3 linked regions of the Homo sapiens genome follow. The protein of the gene in region 1 purifies or fractionates together with the protein of each later gene. This does not show direct contact. Each region holds a gene or a part of one and is shown on either strand. Other genes may lie near its edges. The genes, in order: ABCF1, PAAF1 and PINX1.

What was found.
Region 2: the proteins of ABCF1 (region 1) and PAAF1 fractionate together in Homo sapiens (co-fractionation; one large-scale study listed by BioGRID). This does not show direct contact.
Region 3: the proteins of ABCF1 (region 1) and PINX1 purify together in Homo sapiens (co-immunoprecipitation; one large-scale study listed by IntAct). This does not show direct contact.

The regions. Positions count from the first base shown.
Region 1 is NC_000006.12:30,577,873-30,581,599, reverse strand, and holds part of ABCF1 (ATP-binding cassette sub-family F member 1), read right to left. Parts: coding exon 3,687-3,727; intron 3,525-3,686; coding exon 3,398-3,524; intron 3,253-3,397; coding exon 3,215-3,252; intron 3,131-3,214; coding exon 3,023-3,130; intron 1,670-3,022; coding exon 1,595-1,669; intron 1,195-1,594; coding exon 1,081-1,194; intron 1-1,080. UniProt on the Homo sapiens protein: Isoform 2 is required for efficient Cap- and IRES-mediated mRNA translation initiation. Isoform 2 is not involved in the ribosome biogenesis.
Region 2 is NC_000011.10:73,907,872-73,911,598, reverse strand, and holds part of PAAF1 (proteasomal ATPase-associated factor 1), read right to left. Parts: intron 2,201-3,727; coding exon 2,006-2,200; intron 1-2,005. UniProt on the Homo sapiens protein: Inhibits proteasome 26S assembly and proteolytic activity by impairing the association of the 19S regulatory complex with the 20S core.
Region 3 is NC_000008.11:10,837,776-10,841,375, reverse strand, and holds the start of PINX1 (PIN2/TERF1-interacting telomerase inhibitor 1), read left to right. Parts: upstream 1-1,500; 5' UTR 1,501-1,619; coding exon 1,620-1,638; intron 1,639-3,600. UniProt on the Homo sapiens protein: Microtubule-binding protein essential for faithful chromosome segregation. Mediates TRF1 and TERT accumulation in nucleolus and enhances TRF1 binding to telomeres. Inhibits telomerase activity. May inhibit cell proliferation and act as tumor suppressor.

The sequences.
Region 1 (3,727 bases):
AATCCTGTCTCTACTAAAAACACAAAAAATCAGCCGGTCATGGTGGCACGTGCCTGTAGTCCCAGCTACTCGGGAGACTGAGGCAGAAGAATTGCTTGAACCCGGGAGGCAGAGGTTGCAGTGAGCTGAGATTGCGCCACCGCACTCCAGCCTGGGCAACGGAGTGAGACTCCATCTCAAAAAAAAAAAAAAAAAAAAAAAGATCAGGAAGCTCTAGTGCACAGTCAGAGGAATCCAGCAGAATCACAGAATTAGGAAGTGCCAGACGCATAGGGACCCTAGAGATCTCCGGACTCCTCCTTCTATCACACAAAGGAGACAAGTGAGACCCAAGGGGATGGGAAGATGTATTCAAGGTCACACAGCCAGTGAAGGCAGAGCCAGGACCCAGATCATCTGAGATAAATTCCAGGCCCTTTCTTCACTGGATTAGGTGTTGCAAACTACAGCCCATGGGCCAAGGCTGACCTGACATTTATTTTTATATAGCTCCTGAACTTTATAAAAATAATTTTTGTATTTTCAAAGAGTTGTTAAAAAAAAAAAAGAATATGTGATAGAGATTGTATGTGGCCTGCAAAGCCAAAAACATTTACTATATGGCCCTTTATAGAAAAAGTTTGCTGGCTGGCATGCTGGCTCACACCTGTAAACCCAGCATTTTGGGAGGCTGAGGCAGGAGGACTGCTTGAGCCCAGAAATTCAAGACCAGCCTGAGCAACATAGTGAGACCTCATCTCTATACTAAAAATAAAAAAATTAGCCAGGGGTAGTGGTGCACACTTGTAGTCCCAGCTACTCAGTAGGCTGAGGCAGGAGAATCTGTTGAGCCCAGGAGGTTGAGGCTTCAGTGAGCCGTGTTCACACCACTGCACTCCAGCCTGAGTGACAGAGTAAGATCCTGTGTAAACAAAAACAAAAACAAAAACAAACGAACCACCACCCCAACTACTCCCCCAAAAAAAGAAAAGAATAAAGGTTTGCTGGGATAATAACTATATCCCCAGATTCTAACTCTCCCATAAGGACCCTGGAAGCCCTAGTCCCTCATTCCACCTTGCCCCAACACCAAATACACACCTGCTCTGCCTTCTTGGCCTTCTCCTTCCCTTGTTTGGGAGGCTCCTTTTCCTTTATAATTTCTTCTTCTTTATCCTCCTCTTCATTGTCCAGAGCAGCGAATTTATTTTGAGGCTAATAGGGAAAAGACAGGTCTGATGAAATGTTTTTTTTTTTTTTCTTTTTTTTTTTTTGAGACGGAGTCTCGCTCTGTCACCCAGGCTGGAGTGCAGTGGCGCAATCTCGGCTCACTGCAAGCTCCACCTCCCGGGTTCACGCCATTCTCCTGCCTCAGCCTCCCGAGTAGCTGGGACTACAGGCGCCCGCCACCACGCCCGGCTAATTTTTTTTGTATTTTTAGTAGAGACGGGGTTTTACCGTGTTACCAGGATGGTCTCGATCTCCTGACCTCGTGATCCGCCCACCTCGGCCTCCCAAAGTGCTGGGATTACAGGCGTGAGCCACCGCGCCCAGCCCTGATGAAATGTTTTAATTCCTGGGCCCCAATACCTCCTCCTGCTAGTTACTCTCTCACCTTAGCCTTCCCTTTTGACTTCTCTTCCTTTCCCTTTTTGCCCTTGAGTGCAGGCTGCTGTTCCTCAGATACGGCCTGGAGGAGACACACATACACATTACACACATACATACAAATTATTGTGCTACTTTGCTGTGTAATAAGCATTTCTAGAGAGTCTACTGTGTTAACCATACACATGCTCCTCCATTTACGACAGGTTGCATCCCGATAAACCCACCAGAAACTTAAATAAAAAATGATAGTTCTTGGCCGGGCGTGGTGGCTCACACCTGTAATCCCAGCACTTTGGGAGGCCAAGGCAGGTGGATCACAAGGTCAAGAGATCGAGACCATCCTGGTCAACATGGTGAAACCCTGTCTCTACTAAAAACACAAAAATTAGCTGGGCGTGGTGGCACGTGCCTGTAATCTCAGCTACTCAGGAAGCTGAGGCAGGAGAATCACTTGAACCCGGGAGGCGGAGGTTGCAGTGAGCCAGGATTACGCCACTGCACTCCAGCCTGGCAACAGAGTGAGACTCCGTCTCAAAAAAAAAAAAAAAAAAAAATAGTTCCAACTTATGATGGGTTTATCTGGATATAATCCCATCATGAGTTGAGGAGTACCCTAAATGAGTATGACTTTCACACCATCATAAAGTAGAAAAATCGTACACCGAAGCAGAAGTTGGAGACCATCTGTATTGAGTGCTGCTGACGAAAAATGAGACCCAGAAAAACCCTACCCTCCAGCTTCAGACTAGATAGCGAAGAGATAACTAGGGAACGTCAGCAAGGCTAAGGATTATAAGTCAGGCAAGTGCGCCACCAGAGTGAGTGGCACTAGCACTGGAGGCTTTCTCAAGAGCTCAAATGGACATGGACTAAGATGCACACGCAGAAGAGTCACAAGTAGAAGAGCAAGGACCTGGGGCTTTGTTTCAGGTTCTGTGCTTAAAGCAACAGAATCACTGTAGATTTCTGAGTGATAAAAATGGCATGGTTTTTTTTGTTGTTTTTTTTTTGAGACTGAGTCTTGCTCTGTTGCCCAGGCTGGAGTGCAGTGCCTCAATCTCAGCTCACTGCAAATTCCACCTCCCAAGTTCAAGTGATTCTCCTGCCTCAGCCTTCCAAGTAGCTGGGATTACAGGCGCACGCCACCACGCCTGGCTAATTTTTGTATTTTTAGTAGAGATGAGGTTTCGCCATGTTGGTCAGGCTGGTCTCGATCTCTTGACCTCGTGATTCGCCCACCTCGGCCTCCCAAAGTGCTGGGATTACAGGCGTGACCCACTGTGCCCAGCCTGGGCATGTATTCTAAAAAGATGATTTTAACAGTATAAGTAAGACAGACCGAGAAGAGCTAGTTTAAAAGCGGGAAATTACTCCACCATGGCCAGAAGGTGCTAAATGGAGTGAGAGTGACTGATCGAGCCACCACTGTCACCTTATTGATCCGATTCTTCTCCGGCTTGGCAGGCTTAGGAGGATGTTTTTCTTCCTCCTCCTCTTCCTCACTCTGATCCTGAATCAGGGCTGCAAAAACATTACCACCCTAGAGAATGAAAGGGCCACAGAAGTCAGTAGGATGGTCAAGGTTGCATCCTTGGAGTCTCCGTTTACCACACAGATGGCTTACCTTGGTTTTCTTCCCTCCGCGGGGTTTTGGGGCGGGTACTGAAATGACAGGGGGAGAACATGAGATAGGAAAGAATTACAATGTCTGGCCCCCCAATTGAATCCAACTTGAAGATCAGGGTATGAGGTATCACTCTCCATGACTCATGGATTCCAGGTACCCATTCCCCCTCAGGTCATTTACCTTCATCCTCCTCATCACTGGTTGGCACTGAGAGCTTCTTAAGACGCTCCATGAGCTCTTTCTCTTCTCCATCATCATCCACATCCTTCTTCCGCCTGCCTTTTCGGGTATCTCGCTTTTTTTTTTGCTGCTGAGAGCAAAAGAACAGTGAGAAAATGAAGCCCAGGCCCCTGCTGTATTTCTGCCTCACAGAGGGTTCCCCATCAGCTGAATGGAGCAACATGGGCTGGAAAGGGGTTGGTGGAACCCAGATGCCTCCCAGGATTGGTGGGCCCTGTGGCACTTGTACCTGCTGTTGCTGTTGCTGCTGCTGCTGCTCCTTCTCCTTGA
Region 2 (3,727 bases), on another chromosome or scaffold:
ACAGCCATTTCAGTCAAGTACTTGGGCACAAACCATCCTAGAATGGGTTGAAGAGTAAATGGGAAATGAAAAATTACAGAAAACAAGAAAAAATATTCTCATTTAAATTACTTTAGGGCCAGGAGCTGTGGCTCATGCTTGTAATCCTAGCACTTTGGGAGGCTAAGATGGGAGAATCACTTGAGGCCATGAGTTCAACACCAGCCTGGGCAACATAGTGAGACCCTGTCTCTACAAAAATAAAAAAAAGTAGCTAGGTGTAGTGGTGCATGCCTAGAGTCCTAGCTACTCGAGAGGGTGAGAGGCAGGAGAACTGCTTGAACAGAGTACAGAGGATTATTAGGGCTAAGAAACTACTATGTATGATACTGCAATGGTAAATACATGTCACTGTACACTTGTCAGACCCTATAGGATATATAACACCAAGAGTAAGCCCTAATGTAAACTCTGAACTTTGGGTGACAATAATGTGTCACGTAGGTTCATCAGCTGTAATAAATGTACCACTCTGGTGGGGGATATTGATAGTGAGGAGGGCTATGTGTGAGTGGGTAAGGCAAAAGGTATATAAGAACTCCCTGTACTTTTTTTTTTTTTTTTTTTTTTGAGACAGAGTCTCACACTGTCGCCTGGGCTGGAGTGCAATGGAGCGATCTCAGCTCACTGCAACTTCCTCCTCCCAGGTTCACACGATTCTCCTGCCTTAGCCTCCCGAGTAGCTGGGATTACATGCACACACTACCACACCCAACTAATTTTTTGTATTTTTAGTAGAGATGGGGTTTCACTATGTTGGCCAGACTGGTTTCGAGCTCCTGACCTTGTGAATCGCCCGCCTCGGCCTCCCAAAGTGCTGGGATTACAGGCGTGAGCCACTGCACCTGGTCCCCTGTACTTTCTGCTAAATTTTGCTGTGAGCCTAAAATGGCCCTAAAAAATAAGGGCTATTTTTTAAAATGTGAGGGGCTAAGACAACAGTAGAAAAAACATTGTCCTATGGAACAGAGATGCAACTATTATTATGGGAAAATAAGAAGGAAAGTTGCCTTATTAGGACCTTTATTAGTCTCTCACCACAGCTATTCAACCCATTTCCTACTACTACCCCTCTTAATTCAACTTTCTAGCCCAGTCAAACATATCTTTTTATATAACACTTAGTTTCACGTCCAAGCTATAATGCAAACTGCCCCTACACCTACCCCTTGCCCTAGCTCCCATTGTCCTATCCTTACAATTACTGTCTGTTCAACTTCAACTTATCCTCTAAAGGTTCAAGCCAACTTCTTTTGTGACATCTTTCCTATCTATACTAACCGGGAACACTCCGTCCCTCTGAAAACCTATTATATTTGCATTAGGACTTGCTAATTTGCCAGGCATGGTGGTGCAGGCCTGTAGTCCCAGCTATTAGGGAGGCTGTGGTGGGAGCATCACTTGAGCCCAGGAGTTCAATGCCAGCCTGGGCAAAACAGCAGGACTCTATCGCTAAAAGAATAAAATAAATAAAAAGAATCACTAATTATTTCAGCCAAATGTTACTGTTCTCTAAATGTTTTAAAGCAAGCTTGTCCAACCTGCAGCCCAGGGTGGCTCTGAATGAGGCCCAACACAAATTCATAAACTTTCTTAAAATATTATGAGATTTATTTATTTTTAGCTCAGCTATCATCAATGTTGTGTATTTTATGTGTGGCCCAAGACAAGTCTTCCAATGTGGCCCAGGGAAGCCAAAAGATCGGACACCCCTGCTTTATAGGCATTTATCTCATCTTCTACATTAGATTGTACTTACTGAAACGCAGTGCTATGACATATACTTCCTTTGTAGATTCCAAAGTAATAGAAACATAGTAGGTACAGAGTAAATATTAATCGTATGGTGAAAACAGAAATACCAGGCACAGAGCAGAAAAGGATGAGGAAGAAAAGGAGAAACTAAGGCAATCACTGAAGGGGGCCTAAGAAAATAAAACAATGCTACATATCATTATCAACTTACTGGGCATCTGCTCAGGGGAGCCAAGGTTTATGGAGTTGTCAGCAGCACCCACCGCCACTCCATTGATAGAAGAACCACAATCTGCAAGGACTCCCAAGCAGGCTGAGCGCCCACAATCCCAAAGTCGTGCTGTCCCATCTCGAGAAGCAGACACCACATTCCTCCCCCGATCAACGATGGCTGTATCCAGGATACCTAGCAAGAGAAAAAAACTCCCTAAGATGGAGGATGGAGTAAAGGAACTACAAGGGCAGAGAAGATGGAGCTGCATAAATGACTCCATCCCTTCACAAACATGTTCTGAACAGGTACCACATGCTGGCCATGTTCAAGTGCTAGAAAAACAGAAATAGAGTCCCAGCTTCCCAATGAATCAAAGTCTAGCTGTGAAAGACAGGCATGGAAAAACAAGTACTGGATTTAATTTTTAGTGGAGTGTGCTAGAGAAATCATGTTCAAGTTTTTTATTTTGTCTTCAAAACTCTTTTTTAAAAAGAAAAATTAAGAGGTCGGGCGTGGTGGCTCACACCTGTAATCCCAGCACTTTGGGAGGCCGAGGCAGGTGGATTGCCTGAGCTCAGCAGTTCAAGACCAGCCTAGCTAACATGATGAAACCCTGTCTTTACTAAAAATACAAAATAGCCAGGCGTGGTGACACATGCCTGTAATCCCAGCTAAACAGGAGGCTGAGGCAGGAGAATCGCTCGAACCTGGGAGGCGTAGGTTGCAGTGACCCGAGATCACGCCACTGCACTCCAGCCTTCAACAGAGGAGACTCCGTCTCAAAAAATAAATAAATAAATAAAAAATAAAAATTAAGTAGACACCTTAACAAGAACTTTGGAGGAAAAAAAAGTTGACACCTAAGCTAATTCAGTTTGAAAATCACTGCCTTGGCCAGGTGCAGTGGTACACACCTGTAATTCCAGCACTTTGGGAGGCTGAGGCAGGAGAATCTCTTGAGCGCAGGAGTTTAAGACCAGCCTGGGTGACACAGCATGACTCTGTCTGTACAAAAAATTTAATTTAGGTATGGTGGCTCGTGCCTGTAATCCCAGCTACTCAGGAGGCTGAGGTGGGAGGATTGCTTGAGCCCTGGAGTTCAAGGCTACAGTAAGCCATGATTGCTCCACTGCACTCCAGCCTGGGCAGTGGAGCAAGACCCATATATATATATACACACATATATATACACATATATATATACACACATATATATACATATATATATACACACATATATACACATATATACACATATATATACATATATACACATATATATACATATATACACACATATATATACATATATACACATATATACACATATATACATATATATACACATATATATACACACATATATATATATTTATTTACATATATGCTGCTGCTGCTTTCACTGATAATTGATTAAAAGGGTTAGCCTCCCCATTTGAAAAAAGGACATGACTTCTGGTTTTGGCCAAGAAAGAGTAGTCCCATTGCTCCTAGGTCCTTCTGTTTACAACTGAAAAGTCATTGACACCACAAGCATAGTAAGACTTGGAATGATGGAAAGAAGGTGGTGGACCACTTAAGGACCTCAGGACTTAAAAAACAACACAGCAATGAGTTCCTGGATTTCCTTATTGCCTCCCACATGTCCTGGACAGGACACTGCAGAAGCCTCCAACACAAAACTGCTAACAGGAACAGAGTTAAAAAACAAAACAAAAC
Region 3 (3,600 bases), on another chromosome or scaffold:
CTAACTGAGCGTTTCCAGGAGACACCTCATTGTAACAGAAGATCCAACGATAACTAACCATTTACCACCTGAACCATGGCAACAGGCCATAAATGTCTGCTTCGATCTTCTTGACCATCTTAGAGACAAAATTACCTTTCTGAAATCATATACCAACACAGGAGGTGCTTGAAAAACTCTGATTTCCGACTAATTCAGTATTCTCCATTCTATATAACTACCTTCCACTCTCTCTGGCATAATCCAATAGATCTGCTAATTATCCTAAGATTTTTGTGATCCTGCCTTCCTGAGTCCAGTGCCCTACTTTTAACCTTGTTCCCTATGTCACAATGTCACAGCTTTCCTGCCTTGGCTGGGAAAATTCCATTCACTTGCCTCCCCTCACCCCCTCAGTATTCACTGATAGCTATAAGCATCCTTTTGTGTTTCTTCTAACTTTTATGAAACTAGGGTTTACCTTTTTCATCCAGATTCCTAGTTAAAGGGAGAATTTCATTGTAAACAAGAATCTAGTCCTTCAATTGCTTTTCTTGGCACCTGAGTGGTGCTCTTTTTACCTTCCTTTTATGTAGGAAAGGCTTCTGTGTGCACTGTCACCTGAAGTTTACTGGAGAGTCACTCACCCAAAAACATGTCTTTACCATACTTAAAAGTGTTATAGCTAAGAGCTTATTAGAACTCCCCTGGAGACAGGGATACTTGAATTAAATTTTGCAAACATCTATGGAGCCTTACCATACTCACATTATTTTGCGAGGTGCTGGTACGAATACAGAAATGGATATAATAAAGGCAACCTTCCAGTGTGTGCACTGTGGTGGAGAAAATAAATAAAACCTTTGCCTTGTTGAAGGCATCCCATTATTTAAAGAGGTAACATTTTCCCCACAACTATTTTGTGTGGGGTCCCACAAAAAAACCGATAGATAGCAGACCTATCTTCTGATATCTATCTACTATCTATCTATCATCTATCTATCTATCTATTTATCTATCATCCATTTGTTTATCTATCTCAGAAAGCAGAGGTAGGGTACGAGGAAGAGATGGGACATTACAATGCAAAGTCCTCCCCTCCAGCCAAGTTTTTCAAACTCCTTGTCCATACAACATCCATGACCCTAAGTTCAGCTCTTTACACATTTCTTTTCCCCGTGAGGCTGAGCTGCTTGAGGGCAGGTCACGTCTTTCCACTACCCTTCTTGCCGGCACCTAGGGCTTCCTGATGGAGACCCTACAGGTAATCCACGTGAGCTTATGCTCCGCGGCAGACACGCCCAGGCGGGCTTTACTCACATCAATAGCTTAGTACGCACACTCCCTCTAGCCAATGAGCGAATACGTACTCCTTTCTCCACCTCCCGCAGGGCGGCCACCGCCCCCTCAGTCCCTCTTTCTCCCGTCACCTCCCCAGGTTGCCCCGCCCTGCTCCGCCCCCTCGCCGCCGCGTGCTCGAGGAGCGAGTCGCGCGCTACTGACGTCACCAGCACGCGCCCCGTCCGCTGCAGTCCGCCGGCGAGGGAGTTACGCACGTCCTGATTCTCCTGGAGTCTCCAGCCCGCCCAGTGGCCGCAGTCACCCAGGTCCAGAGGCGGCGGTATCACAGGCTCTCCGACATGTCTATGCTGGCTGAACGTGAGTGTCGGAAGCGGAGGCCCGACCCAGGCGCGTTGGTGAAGATGCCGGGTGACGCGCACGGCAGCCCGGAGTGGCTGGGAGCTCGGGTTGCCGGCGCGCCTGGCGCATGGGATCGGGGGACCGGGGAGCCGAGCCCGGCTCTGATTGTCCTGCTCGCCGCAGAGCTCCCCGAAAGTTGGCCGCAGGTCTGCTAGTGAGAGAGACCGCAAGTGTCTCCCGGAGACGCCGTTCTCAGAATCACCCTGGGTCGCGTGCGAAGTGGGTCAGAACACCGGGTCCCGGGACTGGCCCCGCCGCCGCCCTTTGTGGGGTCCCGGACTGGTTGCTTCACCCACCCCGGACCTCAGCTTCCTGAGGTTAAAAAGAGAAGGTTGAGCAGAAGGATCACTTGAAACTGTAATCACATTGTCCAAGATGTCTTGGACCCAGAAAAAGAAAAAGCAAAGGAGTTAGAAGTCTCAAATATGGGACGTCAGCCACTTAGCGAGGGAGTGCAGGGCTAATGTGTAATTCTAAGTGAGACTGGCGTTTTTGACCTTGTTAGTTGGCCACAGCGCCCCGTCCTGCCTGTTTACCTTTGACATTTATCTTCACTTGGTGGAGTCGGTGAAACCCCTGTCTCTGTAGAGGCTGCTGAACTTCTGAATTGTACCTGTAGCGAAGGTCGCTTGCCGCCAGATGGCAGTCATGCTTTGATCCTGAAAAGCGGGTCCTGCTTGGCGAGTTGTACAGTGAGCAAAGAACAGAAACAGCTTATTTAACAGATCAAGCAGACCAGCACAGGGATTTTGTGAAATAAGTGCTGTTAGCACTCTCTTTTCTAAGAGGGTGGAGGACTTAGGAGCACAAAACGAAATGGGTCAGGCACCATCCCGATTTTACAGGGGCAGAAATTGACGTTCAAAGGAAAATAATTTGCCCCTAGTCATTGAGGTAGAAAATGGCAAAATTGATCCAGTTATCTCTGTATCTTTATGTTCTTGCCAGTAAGACCAGCGGAGACCCATAGAAATGAGTATGTTTTAGACTGAACCCGTCGGTTCTATTTTTTCACCAGTAAAAAATGAGGAGTCAGGGTTAGAGCCTAGATAGCTAAGATCTCTTCTGGTTTTCGTATTCTTTGATGTTTGCTTAATTCAGCATGCACTTGGCGACTTTGGCCCTAGTTCTGCTATTCATTTATGTCTGTTCCTTTGATCAGTGTTTGTGAGGCCACAAAATCTTCTCTTAATATTTTTATCCCTAGGTGGCCTTAAATCAGTGAGATGGTGAACATGAACATAGTTTGAAAAGTCTGAAGTATAGAGGTGTAAAATGCTATTTGTAGGCATCAGTAATTCAGATTACATGATTTCAAGAGAGTGTTTTCAGTTCTCCTCTTCCCAACGTTATTCCAAATTGTCAAATCCTTGTCATTATAATATGTAATATTTTTGTGTTTTCTTTTTCGTAATTTGCTAAATGGGTATAGCATCTTCTGTAATTAGATACTTAGGATTGGTGTTGTTAAGAAGAAAAACCTTAGACAAATTATACAGAGTTTGATTGAGCAAAGAATGATTCAAGAATTGGGCAGCCTTCAGAACTAGAACCGGTTCTAAGAACTCCAACCTGCTATGTGGTCAGGCAGTATTTATGGACAGTAAACGGAAGTGAGGTACAGCGACAACTTGGTTAGGGTTACCGCTCTGATTTGCCTTATTTGAATCAGATGGCTGCCTGTGATTGAAGCCTAGCTGCTGTAATGGATTGAGGCTCACTTATATGTTATAAGAGTATACTCCTACGGTAGGCTTTCGCTTCCTTTAAGTTCTAACGTAGGTTGCAGTTCCTTATGTAAGGACTCAAGTACGGAGGCCTCCTCAGGCCAAATTTAATTTAGTGTAACAATACTCTCCTTCTGATCAACCTCTGAATTTTGAGAGATTGTTTAAAACTTCTGCCTCTGGCTCTTGGGAC